Linked DNA regions of Homo sapiens. The protein of the gene in region 3 interacts with the protein of the main gene of each other region in a biochemical or structural test. Each region holds a gene or a part of one and is shown on either strand. Other genes may lie near its edges. The genes, in order: RFFL, ESPL1 and USP28.

Region 1 (3,649 bases), on a different chromosome or scaffold from region 3:
ACTCATTTTGTGTTAGATATGCTAAATGGGTTCTCTCTTAATCTTCACAACAACCCCATGAGGTAGATACTGTTATCACCCCCATTTTACAGATGTGGAAACTGAGCACCAGAGAGGCTAAATTACACACCCAAGGTGATACTGCAAGAAATAAGGGAGGGAGGCTTAATAAAAATGCAGAGCTTTTTGATTCTTATGCTGGTAGTCTTAATTAATACCTCAGGTGCTTCAGGAGTAAATAAAGTAAGCCTCAAATTAAATAATAAATGTGAAGTGTCCTGTACATGGATATACACAATACATAGTGGAGGTCTTCCACCCGAGTGGCTTTTAATCTAAAATCTGAAAGTGGCTTGCACCCTTAGATATATGAGAGAGCTTAGTAAAAGTAAGAGTGACTGGAGGAGATCCTGCTGGGCTTGGCAGCTCTGAAGCTCCCATCGCACTCTCTGTCTTGTTCTCTCAATCTGACATGGTTTCCTGTGTCTTTTGCTCTAAGCAGCAGACCTGCTTGGACTGTAAGAAAAATTTTTGCATGACCTGTTCGAGCCAAGTAGGGAATGGGCCCCGCCTCTGCCTTCTCTGCCAACGGTTTCGAGCTACAGCCTTTCAGCGAGAGGAGCTCATGAAGATGAAGGTGAAGGACTTGAGGGACTATCTCAGCCTCCATGACATCTCTACCGAAATGTGCCGGGAGAAAGAAGAGCTGGTGCTCTTGGTCCTTGGCCAGCAGCCTGTAATCTCCCAGGAGGACAGGACTCGTGCCTCCACCTTGTCCCCAGACTTTCCTGAGCAGCAGGCCTTCCTGACCCAGCCTCACTCCAGCATGGTTCCACCTACCTCACCCAACCTCCCCTCTTCATCTGCACAAGCCACCTCTGTTCCCCCAGCCCAGGTTCAGGAGAATCAGCAGGTAAGGGCCCATTTGTAGTCTCTGCCAGTCTGTGCCAGTTTGAGGGCTCATTTTCATTTTCCTCTCCTGCCTTTGTTGTGAGAATGGGGTATAAGGCTAAGTGTCTTGATTATGTGAAGCCTTTCTGACTACTGGTGCACCAAGTGTTTTCTGGGTATCAGACTCATGTTTTGGCTTTCTTCAGAGGTGATATGCACAGTACCAATTTTTTTGTTTGTTTTTTGTTTTTAATACACACATATCCTAGTTAGACATTTTTTAAAGTTCATCATTCCAGAAATATTTTGAGAAAAGTAACCATTAAGCCATCAAATTTAGTTCTGTTCCAATTTGTCTTTCAACTTAACTCCTTTGTTGCAGTCTTCATTGGCTGGATTGGAAACTTAGTTCCTTAGTAACCATCACAAGGAATATAGGAAAGCAAAGGGCTATATGGAGGCAAGGGAGGGTGGGGAAACAGACAAAGACACTGCTTCTCTTACCAGTCACTGGCTGGAAGCAGGAGTAGTTGGCACGCTGTACTTGCATGCTGCTTCTTCATTATCCTGGGGGGCTTGGAAGTGGTAAGCTAAGAGCAGCACATCAACTGAATCATGACCCAGGTCTGGGGAGTATAGAAATGAGTAATAAACTGTCTCTGTCCTCAAAAAGCCCCCAGAAGAGGGAAGGTAGACAGGTAGACCAACTAACTACTGGATTAGAGTGAGGCCAGTGGACATAATTGTTGTATAAGAAGTGATGATGTTGCATAAGTGCCTTAAGTGACTCTGTTATTTATAGCAGCGGCCCCTAACCTTTTTGGCACCAAGGACTCGTTTTGTGGAAGACAATTTTTCCACAGACTGGGGTGCGTTGGTTTTGGGATGAAACTATTCTACCCAGATCATCAGGCATTAGTTAGATTTTCATAAGGAGCATGCATCCTAGATCCCTCGCATGCGCAGTTCACAACAGAGTTCACATTCCTATGAGAATCTAATGCCACCGCTGATCTGACAGGAGGCAAAGCTCAGGCAGTAATGCTTACTTGCCAGCCACTCACCTCCTGCTGTGCATCCGGGTTCCCAACAAGCCATGGACCAGTACCAGTCTGTGGCCCAGGGGTTGGGGACCCTTGATCTATAGGGCTTGGGCAATATGGGGGAATTAGGAACTACAAGATCCAATTTCCACATCCACTTTTGTCACTGACTTCTTGATCCCCTTGGGCAAATGTTGAGCCTACAACAATGAAATGAGGTTAGTAATCACAGACCACTTTTGATCTTGCCAGGATGTTGAGAGACCTGAATGCGTGATACCATGTCTAAAAGAGCTCTGAGTTACTTAGAGCTGGTATAGTGCTAGTGCTGTTGGTTCCCACACATGATGTGGATGGCTGCTGCCACTTGTTTATGATCACCTCCTTTGCCAGGACTGGGCCCCCTGATTCAGCTCTTGACAACCACTGAGGCATAAAGGCCAATGTGATAGCATAATTTAACTGCAGTAAAATCATTTAACTCCCTTTTTGGCCTGAACATGTTTTTCTCCGCAGCTGGACTTTAATTCTTTCCTAAGCTCTGACTCTTGGTCTGCTAGACAGATTTAAACTCCTGCTATATATTCTTCCCTTTGCTTGTGTTTTTTTTTTTTCCACTCTATGTATAAGGAGCCAGGAGAAGAACTTGAGGAATTCTTTTTCTGTAAAGAACCTTGGCTGGGCGTGGTGGTTCATGCCTGGTAATCCCAGCACTTTGGGAGGCTGAGGCAGGCGGATCATTTGAGCCCAGGCATTTGAGACTAGCCTGGCAACATGGCAAAAACCTGTCTCTACAAAAAATACAAAAATTAGCTGGGCGTGGTGGTGGGTGCCTGTAGCTACTCAAGAGGCTGAGGTGGGAGGATCATTTAAGCCTGGGAGGTCGAGGCTGCAGTGAACCATGATCATGCCACCACACTCCAGCCTGGGCAACAGAGTGAGATCCTGTCTCAGAAAACAAAAACAAAAAACCAAGCAAACTTTTCAGGTAGATTTTTCAATGAAAGATGATAAGCTTCCTGTCATTAACCAGAAATTTCCAGATTGCACCTAAAGGTCACCCTACATACAAGATCTAAGTGGGTACTTTTCCTCTGAGATTTTCAAGAGACCTTAGTGTCTGCTTACATCCCCTGTTCTGGTGAGAGCTGCACTTTGCAAGCAGGAAAAACAGGCATGGAAGAATTAAGTAACTTACGCAGTACTGTCTGACAAGTTCATAAGTGAGCTGCACCTAGAATGTAAATTTCCTTATAATACTTGCTCAACCAGAGTTCTCTCTTTCACCTTTAGTGCCCTAGCAATCAATAGTTGCTAGGCAAGGAAGTATATACAATAAGCACAACTGTGGACAGGTACTAGTTTTGGATTTTTATTTAGCCAGTGGGCAAACTGGAAAGACAAGAGCATGCTTTGCAGCATGAGGTCGTTTCTCTTTCTAGGAAACAGGACATCTGAAAGATAGCTACTTAGGAACAGGTTAGGCTCTGAAGGATTCCAGGGTAATTCCAAGGTAACACTACCTGAGAGACCAGTGAGGATCTACAGTAAGCTAAGAGAAAACGTTGTTGATGAAGACATTGATTTGGATCCATCCCCATACATGTGTACTATGCATTTGATCTTGCCTTGATTTGGCATTTTGTTACTTCTGCTTTTCATTTCCATTGCAGTTGGTTGCCTCTTCTTGATTAGCTCCATATTATGAATCCTAA
Region 2 (3,749 bases), on a different chromosome or scaffold from region 3:
ACCACCACAGTGTAGAGGTGAAGTCCCTGAAAGTACATCTGAAGAAAAGACTGCTGTTGCTTGGAGGAGCCCCCATACACCTGAGGAAGGAAGCGGAAGGTTGGTATGAGGAGTAGAGATAAAGAGGGCTCCAAGCTGAAGACTGACCCGGAGTCCTGGAGAGCTGACAGAGCCCAGGGAGCACGAGGAAGGACATCCAGAAGGGCCACTGCCCTCTCAGGATAGACTAGGCTGTTTGCTGGCTCGCTAGGCACTGTCCAGAGAGCAGCTTAACAAGGAGGGAGCCAGGACCTCCAGATCTTGCCAAATACCCTAGGCTGGTAGTGAGTCCACAGACCACGTCCCCACCCTACCTCCAGGTCCTTAACTCACACCATCATCCCGCAGCTGCTGCAGAAGAGAGCAGTACCCTCCAAGAAAAGCAAAGAGGCTCAGAATGGCATCAAGTCTATAGCGCCTCTTGGTGCCTCGTTCCAGGCCTGAAAGGAAGAACTGGCAGCTCTCATACAATGCCCGAAGTGGGGGTGATGGTGCCTCCATACTCTTGCTCAGGACAGCTGATGCCTTGATCAGAAGCTTGGCCACTGCCTGAGGTCCTTCCTCCCCAACCTGCAGCAGCTTAACCCCCAGCTGACATAGCTGAAGGCTAGGGGCTAGATTGGTGTTCCTTAGGTAACTGTGAGCCTTCTCCACTGCGCTGATGGCTTTGTCATGGTGGCGGCTCCAGCAAAAGCGACGGCAGTGTTCCAAGGTGAGCTCCAAGAGGCAGAGGGCCCTCTGGGGAGAAAGAAGCCCAGAAGAGCTCCCTCTCTCACCCACCAAGGCTCTGATCACGTGCCTGGAGAGCAGGTCATCTAGGAAATCAGCATCTGCTTCATTTAGACCATGGCCACTGGCATCAAATAGCTGATGGGCAGCTACCGCTCGACAGGCTGTTGGAGAAGCAAAGTGAGGAACCTCACAAGGGGTACTTTCATCCTCCAAGAGTACTAGGAAGCTCAAGGCCTTCAGCCGAGCTGCAAATGCAGCTCGCCGTTCCAACAGGGCTTCTGCCCCCTTCCAAAGCAGAGAAAAGCTGCCCCGAGCCACGGCCTCATAGTCCTGGGGAGCAGCCTCGCGAGAGCACTGCACCAAGCAGGCATGGAGGGGCTGAGCAAGGCGGAGTGTGGCCTCTGGGCTTCCTTGTGCAGCAGCATTCCGCAGTAAGACAAAGAGAATTCGTTCCAGGTAGAGGGGAGGACGCTGTGGGGTAGACACTAAGTAGCCATCACAGGCCAGCTCTGCCAGCTCCAGCAGGCTCCCCAGATGCCTAGGGCAAGCTAGCTTAGCAGTCAGCTGCTGGTTGCAAGCCCTCAGGATGGCATCACAAGCTTGTCTCCTCTCAGCATCAGATCGGCTGCTGGGAAAACCAGCTGGAGGGTTGGACAGGAACTCCTAGGAGTAGAGAAAGATATGAATGGGGCTAGCAAAGGCAGGAAAGAGGTAGAGAAAGTAACTAGAAATAGGGTTACTCAGAGAGGGTCGCCTACTTATCCATCTCTTCAAAAGGCAAACACAAAACAGCTCAGTTTGGAAAGCCAGGTGTATCCCGAGCCAGGCAGCACCCCCACCTTCAAGGCGGGCAGCAACTCTTCAGCCTCCTTCTGGCTGCTTAGCAGAGTCCCAAAGTTGACTCTTTTGAAGCTCCTCATGACACCGGAGAGCTAGGGAAAAGGAGACCAATTAGAGAAGATTGTTAATGAAGCTAACTGGAGGAAGGGAAGAGGGCTGAAGGTCGTGGAAGGAGGCAAAGAATCACATCAGAAATTTCATCGGGGAGAAAACCCACGCCAGGACGCCGTGCTCCCGTTATAAAAGGACGATTCCGCTCTTCCTTCCTCCGGGCAGATCCCCGACCGCACTACCACACCACTCGCCGCGCTACCCCAGAGGCCTCGGCCCAGCCCTTCAGCGGCCCGGGGCAGTCCCAAGGCCTCCCGACACTCCCTCCAGGAGCCACCCACGCCTCTCCTCGCGTCAGCGCTGGGGATCCCCTTCACTTCAGCACGTACCCACGCTCACGAGTCCCTTCCGGCCTTACCGCCCCAGAGCTCGCCCTCTTTCCTAGGTACAGGACTTAACCGCCTGACCAGTACTCCGCGAGGATCCAAAATGTAACCTTCGTTTTCCGCGCCAGACCCTCCTTTCAAATATCCGCGGCTGCCAATCAGCGGGCGCGGCGCAACGCCGGGCGCGCGGCACGCTGGGAGTTGTAGTTTACCCGCCGCGCTGCGCGCTCCCGCGGCGCCCCGGAGGGTCTTGCTGCTCTGCGCGTTAGGGCCTCTTGGGGGTGCGGGTTTCCCCCTTTTTTCCAGTCAGAGCTCAGTTTCTCAGCTACCTGTCGCTTAGTCGCTATCGGTAATGCCACCCCTTTTCCTCCTTTATCTTCAGAGCTCAGGCAAGAGTTTAAGTTTCAAGAGAAGAGAAATAACAAAAAGAACTTAGGAACTCACGCGGTTTGGGTTACTAGAAAAAAAGGGCTTAGACTTCTACGAATTTTTTTTTTGATAGGGTCTTGCTCTGACACACAGGCTGGAGTGCAGTGGCGTGATCACAGCTCACTGCAGCTTCAAACTCCCGGGCTTAAGTGATCCTCCCACCTCAGCCTCCCAAAGTGCTGACTACGGGCGTGCACCGCCACGCCCAACTTCCTACGAAATTATTTTAAAGATGGTTTTCTAGGGGAACTACAATGAGTACCCGTAGCGACCTCCAGCTCTCTCTCTGCCTTCCAGCCTTACTCCTTCTATTGGTTGTATGAGAAAGACAAGATCTGGTGCTCTTCGATGGGGGAGAGAGGGTAGTGGGGTGGGGTGGGAGTTGTGAGTAGCAGGAAGAACTATGGAAATTCATTCCCTGGGATATTTCACAGTCTTTAATGGCTTATGTTTTTAAGTACTAACCACTTCCCCAAACACAGATTCAGCTGTCTCTTTCCTTCCTCCACCAAAGAATTCAGCTCAAAAGTGGTTATCAGCTTGTCGCTGATGAACTCTACTGGATAACTCATCCTTCTCCATCATCATAGAGCTCTTTTATGAGTTGAGAATCTAGCAGGGAAGATTATTTTTGTAAAAAGAAAGAAAAGAAGGCCGGGCGCGGTGGCTCACGCCTATAATCCCAGCACTTTAGGAGGCCGAGGTGGGTGGATCACTTGAGAACCAGCCTGACCAACATGGTGAAACCCCATCTCTACTAAAAATACAAAAATTAGCTGCTGTGGCATCGGGGGCCTGTAGTCCCAGCTACTTGGGAGGATCGCTTGAACCCGGGAAGCGGAGGTTGCAGTGAGCTGAGATCCCGCCACTGTACTGCAGTCTGGGTGACAGAGCAAGACTCTGTCTCAAAAAAGAAAACCAAAAAAAAGGCCGGGCGCGGTGGCTCACGCCTGTAATCCCAGCACTTTGAGAGACCGAGGCGGGCGGATCACGAGGTCAGGAGATCGAGACAATCCTGGCCAACATGGTGAAACCCCGTCTCTACTAAAAATACAAAAAATTAGCCGGGCGTGGTTGCAGGCTCCTGTAGTCCCAGCTACTCGGGAGGCTGCGCTAGGAGAACGGCGTGAACCCGGGAAGCGGAGCTTGCAGTGAGCCAAGATCGCGCCACTGCACTCCAGCCTGGGCTACAGAGCGAGACGACTCTGTCTCAAAAAAAAAAAAACCAAAAAACAAACAAACAAACAAAAAAAACCCAAAAGAAAATTATTC
Region 3 (3,649 bases):
CTAACATCTGAGGTCAGGCACGGTGGCTCATGCCTGTAATCCCAGCACTTTTGGAGGCTGAGGCAGGATGACTTGGTTCATAAGTTTGAGACCAGCCTGGGCAACACAGAGAGACCCCATTGCTAAAAAAACTTTTAAAATTAACCACAGGCTGGGTTCGGTGGCTCACGCCTATAATCCCAGCACTTTGGGAGGCCAAGGCAGACGGATCACCGGAGGTCAGGTGTTCAAGACCAGCCTGGCCAACATGGTGAAACCCCGTCTCTACTAAAAATACAAAAATTAGGCGTGGTGGCATGTGCCTGTAATCCCAGCTACTTGGGAGGCAGAGGCAGAAGAATCAATAGAACCCGGAAGGCGGGGGTTACAGTGAGCTGATCTCACGCCACTGTACTCCATCCTGGGCAACAGACTGCGGTCCGTCTCAAAAAATAAAATAAAACAAAAGTAGCCAGGTGTGGTGGTGCATACCTGTGGTCCCAGCTACTCAAGTGTCTGAGGATTGCTTGGGTCTGGGTGGTCAAGGCTGCAGTGAGCCTTGACGGTGTCACCACACTCCAGCTTGGGTGACAGAGTGAAACCCTATCTCAAAAAACAAACAAGACATCTCAGTTTCCTCATCAGTAATAGGGTAATAGTTCACACCTTGCTGGGTTTTTGTAAATAAAAATGTATGGAAAAGTGCTTAGGGTGGTACATAGCATATGGCAGACACGAGTAATACAAGTGTACATTCCCATGCCTAGTATAACAACCCTGGGAAAATAAGTATGAAGCAAACGTTTATAGCCAAGGAGGTTGATATTCAAGCAGACCTGTTCAAAAAGCACTGGGAAACAGAGTATAGAAGTCATTTGCAACTCAGGATTAGAAATGTAGATTTGGAGCCAGGTGTTCACGCCTGTAATCCCAGCACTTTGGGAGGCTGAGGTGGGCAGATCACCTGGGGTCAGGAGTTCAAGACCAACCTGACAAACATGGAGAAACCCTGTCTCTACTAAAAATACAAAATTAGCTGGGCATGGTGGTGCATGCCTGTAATCCCAGCCACTCGGGAGGCTGAGGCAGGAGAATCACTTGAACCCAGGAGGCGGAGGATGCAGTGAGCCAAGATCGTGCCAATGCACTCCACCCTGGGCAACAAGAGCGAAACTCCGTCTCAAAAAACAAAACAAGAAAAAAGTAACAGCAAAAAAGTGGTAATGAGGGATCATAAAAGCATAAAATAATAAAAGTATGAGGGGGCCAGGTGTGGTGGCTCATGCCTGTAATCCCAACACTTTGGGAGGCCAAGGCAGGAGGACTGCTTGAGCCCAGGAGTTCAAGACCAGCCTGGGCAACATAGCAAGACCTCGTCTCTATAAAAAATTAAAAAAACAGCCAAGTGCGGTGATGCACGCCTGTGGTCCCAGCTACTCAGGAGGCTGAGGTGGGAGGATCGCTTGAGCCTAGGAGGTCAAGGCCAAAGTGAGCTATAATCACATCGCTGCACCCCAGTCTGGGTGACAGAGGGAGAGATCCTGCCTTGGCAAAGTAGGCTGCTGAGCAGATTCTGATTACATAAAACCACTCACTGCCTTTCAACCTAACCTGCTGCTGCCTAGTCAGTCCCTCTGCAGGCCTCTGAACAATCAGCCATTTGCTGGAGCCCAGACTGGTCCACACGGCCATCTCATTATTTGGCTTTTGCAGAAGCTGTTATTGCCACCTTAAGCTCTGTAGCAGAATCTGGGAACCAACCTTCCTCAATCTCCTGTCAGCTAAGAGTTAGTCTTGCTCAAGTCTGTCTTTTCCAAGTTTTGTATATTGAGTCTGAATACATTGTCACTGGAAAAATGTTTTAGAAATGAAACAGGTGGGGTTAGAAACTTTGTTCCAAAAGCAAACAAGAGGAGGAAGGTGGAGACAACAGCTGGACTGGGCAATAGACACTTTTGTTGTTGTTATTTGGTTTCAAGATAGAGGACAAGTGCACGGTAAAATGGAAAATGCAAATTCAAAATGTAATATGCAAATGAATCACCCAAGAATCTTGTCAAAAGGCAGAAACTGATTGAATAGGTCTAGAGTGGGGGTACAGGCAGTGGTATGCTGATTGGCAGTGTATGCTTGTTTCCTTGGTATAAATATTCCCACCTTGGCACAGTTATCAACACGAGGTCATTGAACACAGAGCTGGAAAGAGATGTACAAAATCAGCTGGAGAGGCAGAGCAAGCTGGCTCTAGCACACTCAACTTTCTGCATGTCTAAATCCTAGGGGATGTGAATGCTGCTGGTCTGTGGACCATAATGTGAGTAGCAAGGGAGAAGACAGTGAAGGTGTCTGGGGGTTAGACTAGGACTAAGGAGAAGGGACATAATAGAAAGAGAAGAGAGACATCATCTAGATCAGAGTTTGTCAAGCTCAGCACTATTTTATACAATTTACACATAACTCTGTTTAGAGGGGCTTACTCCTGTACACTGCAGGATGTTTAGCAGCATTCCCGGCTTCTACGCACTACATTCCAGTAGCATCCTCCCTCCAGAGTCACAATCAAAGTCTCCAGACATTGCCAAATGCTTCCTAGATTACAAAATCTCTCCCTAGTAAAAACCATTAATCTAGGTTTATCTCTAAGAAATGAAAGGGGGAAAAAGGAAGGGAACCTTTTCCACTGAAATAAGAGAAAAGAGATGAGATGGCGTAGGGAGAGGGGGACAAAACAGAAGGCAGGGAGCTCTTTTTAGACATCAGCGAGCTCAGTCAAGTAGAAAAGAAGATTATCTATTTAGAAAGACTGTAGGGAGGACTGGAAGTTTAAAACATTAGGAGAGTTCTAGAAAAGGCATTATAAGAGTAGTGGAAAGTCTGTGATCCAGGGCAATGGGCCCATCAACTATGAGATAGGACCAGGGGCGCCTTGGGCTCTTGGGGTCAGAACTGCCTAGATACAATTCCAACTGTACCATATCCTCACTGGGTGACCTTGGACGAATTACTTAACAAGTATAAGCCTTCTCATAGAAACTTCATGGAGTTGTGTAAGTACTGAGAGAATGCTATGTTAAGTTCTGAGCACCGAGTCTGGCACATAGTGCATGCTCAATTAGCATTAGCTATTACTATTACCAGCATTATTTTCCTTGTTAAGTACTTGCTTCATTTTACTATTGATTTAATTTCTTTGATGAAACAGAACACATGGAGAGATCTCGCCTGGTAAGATGCTATTTGCCAGTAAGTCTTAAAAATACTGTTTGCAGACCGAGGCGGGCGGATCATGAGGTCAGGAGATCGAGACCATCCTGGCGAACACTGTGAAACCCCGTCTCTACTAAAAATACAGAAACATCAGCCGGGCGTGGTGGTGGGCACCTGTAGTCCCAGCTACTCAGGAGGCTGAGGCTGGAGAATGGCATGAACCCGGGGGGCGGAGCTTGCAGTGAGCAGAGATCGCGCCACTGCACTTCAGCCTGGGCAACAGAGCGAGACTCCGTCTCAAAAAAAAAAAAAAATACTGTTTGCATTTGGGGGCAGAGGGGCATGAGAGTTGTGGAACCAATCACTGACTTACTGATGTTTTAAAAATCAGTTAATGAGACAAAAGGAAACGAAAGGTCAATAAATCAAGAGAAAGCAAAAAGGGCATTAAATTTTCACTGAA

Evidence for each region.
Region 1: of the proteins of USP28 (region 3) and RFFL, one has a biochemical effect on the other in vitro, tested with the Homo sapiens proteins (one large-scale study listed by BioGRID).
Region 2: of the proteins of USP28 (region 3) and ESPL1, one has a biochemical effect on the other in vitro, tested with the Homo sapiens proteins (one large-scale study listed by BioGRID).

What each region holds. Positions count from the first base shown.
Region 1 is NC_000017.11:35,018,635-35,022,283, reverse strand, and holds part of RFFL (E3 ubiquitin-protein ligase rififylin), read left to right. Parts: intron 1-502; coding exon 503-913; intron 914-3,649.
Region 2 is NC_000012.12:53,266,709-53,270,457, reverse strand, and holds the start of ESPL1 (separin), read right to left. Parts: upstream 2,160-3,749; 5' UTR 2,081-2,159; exon of another isoform or gene 1,829-2,080; intron 1,704-1,828; 5' UTR 1,692-1,703; coding exon 1,611-1,691; exon of another isoform or gene 1,530-1,610; intron 1,435-1,529; coding exon 373-1,434; intron 81-372; coding exon 1-80. UniProt on the Homo sapiens protein: Caspase-like protease, which plays a central role in the chromosome segregation by cleaving the SCC1/RAD21 subunit of the cohesin complex at the onset of anaphase. During most of the cell cycle, it is inactivated by different mechanisms.
Region 3 is NC_000011.10:113,869,002-113,872,650, forward strand, and holds part of USP28 (ubiquitin carboxyl-terminal hydrolase 28), read right to left. Parts: intron 1-3,649. UniProt on the Homo sapiens protein: Deubiquitinase involved in DNA damage response checkpoint and MYC proto-oncogene stability. Involved in DNA damage induced apoptosis by specifically deubiquitinating proteins of the DNA damage pathway such as CLSPN.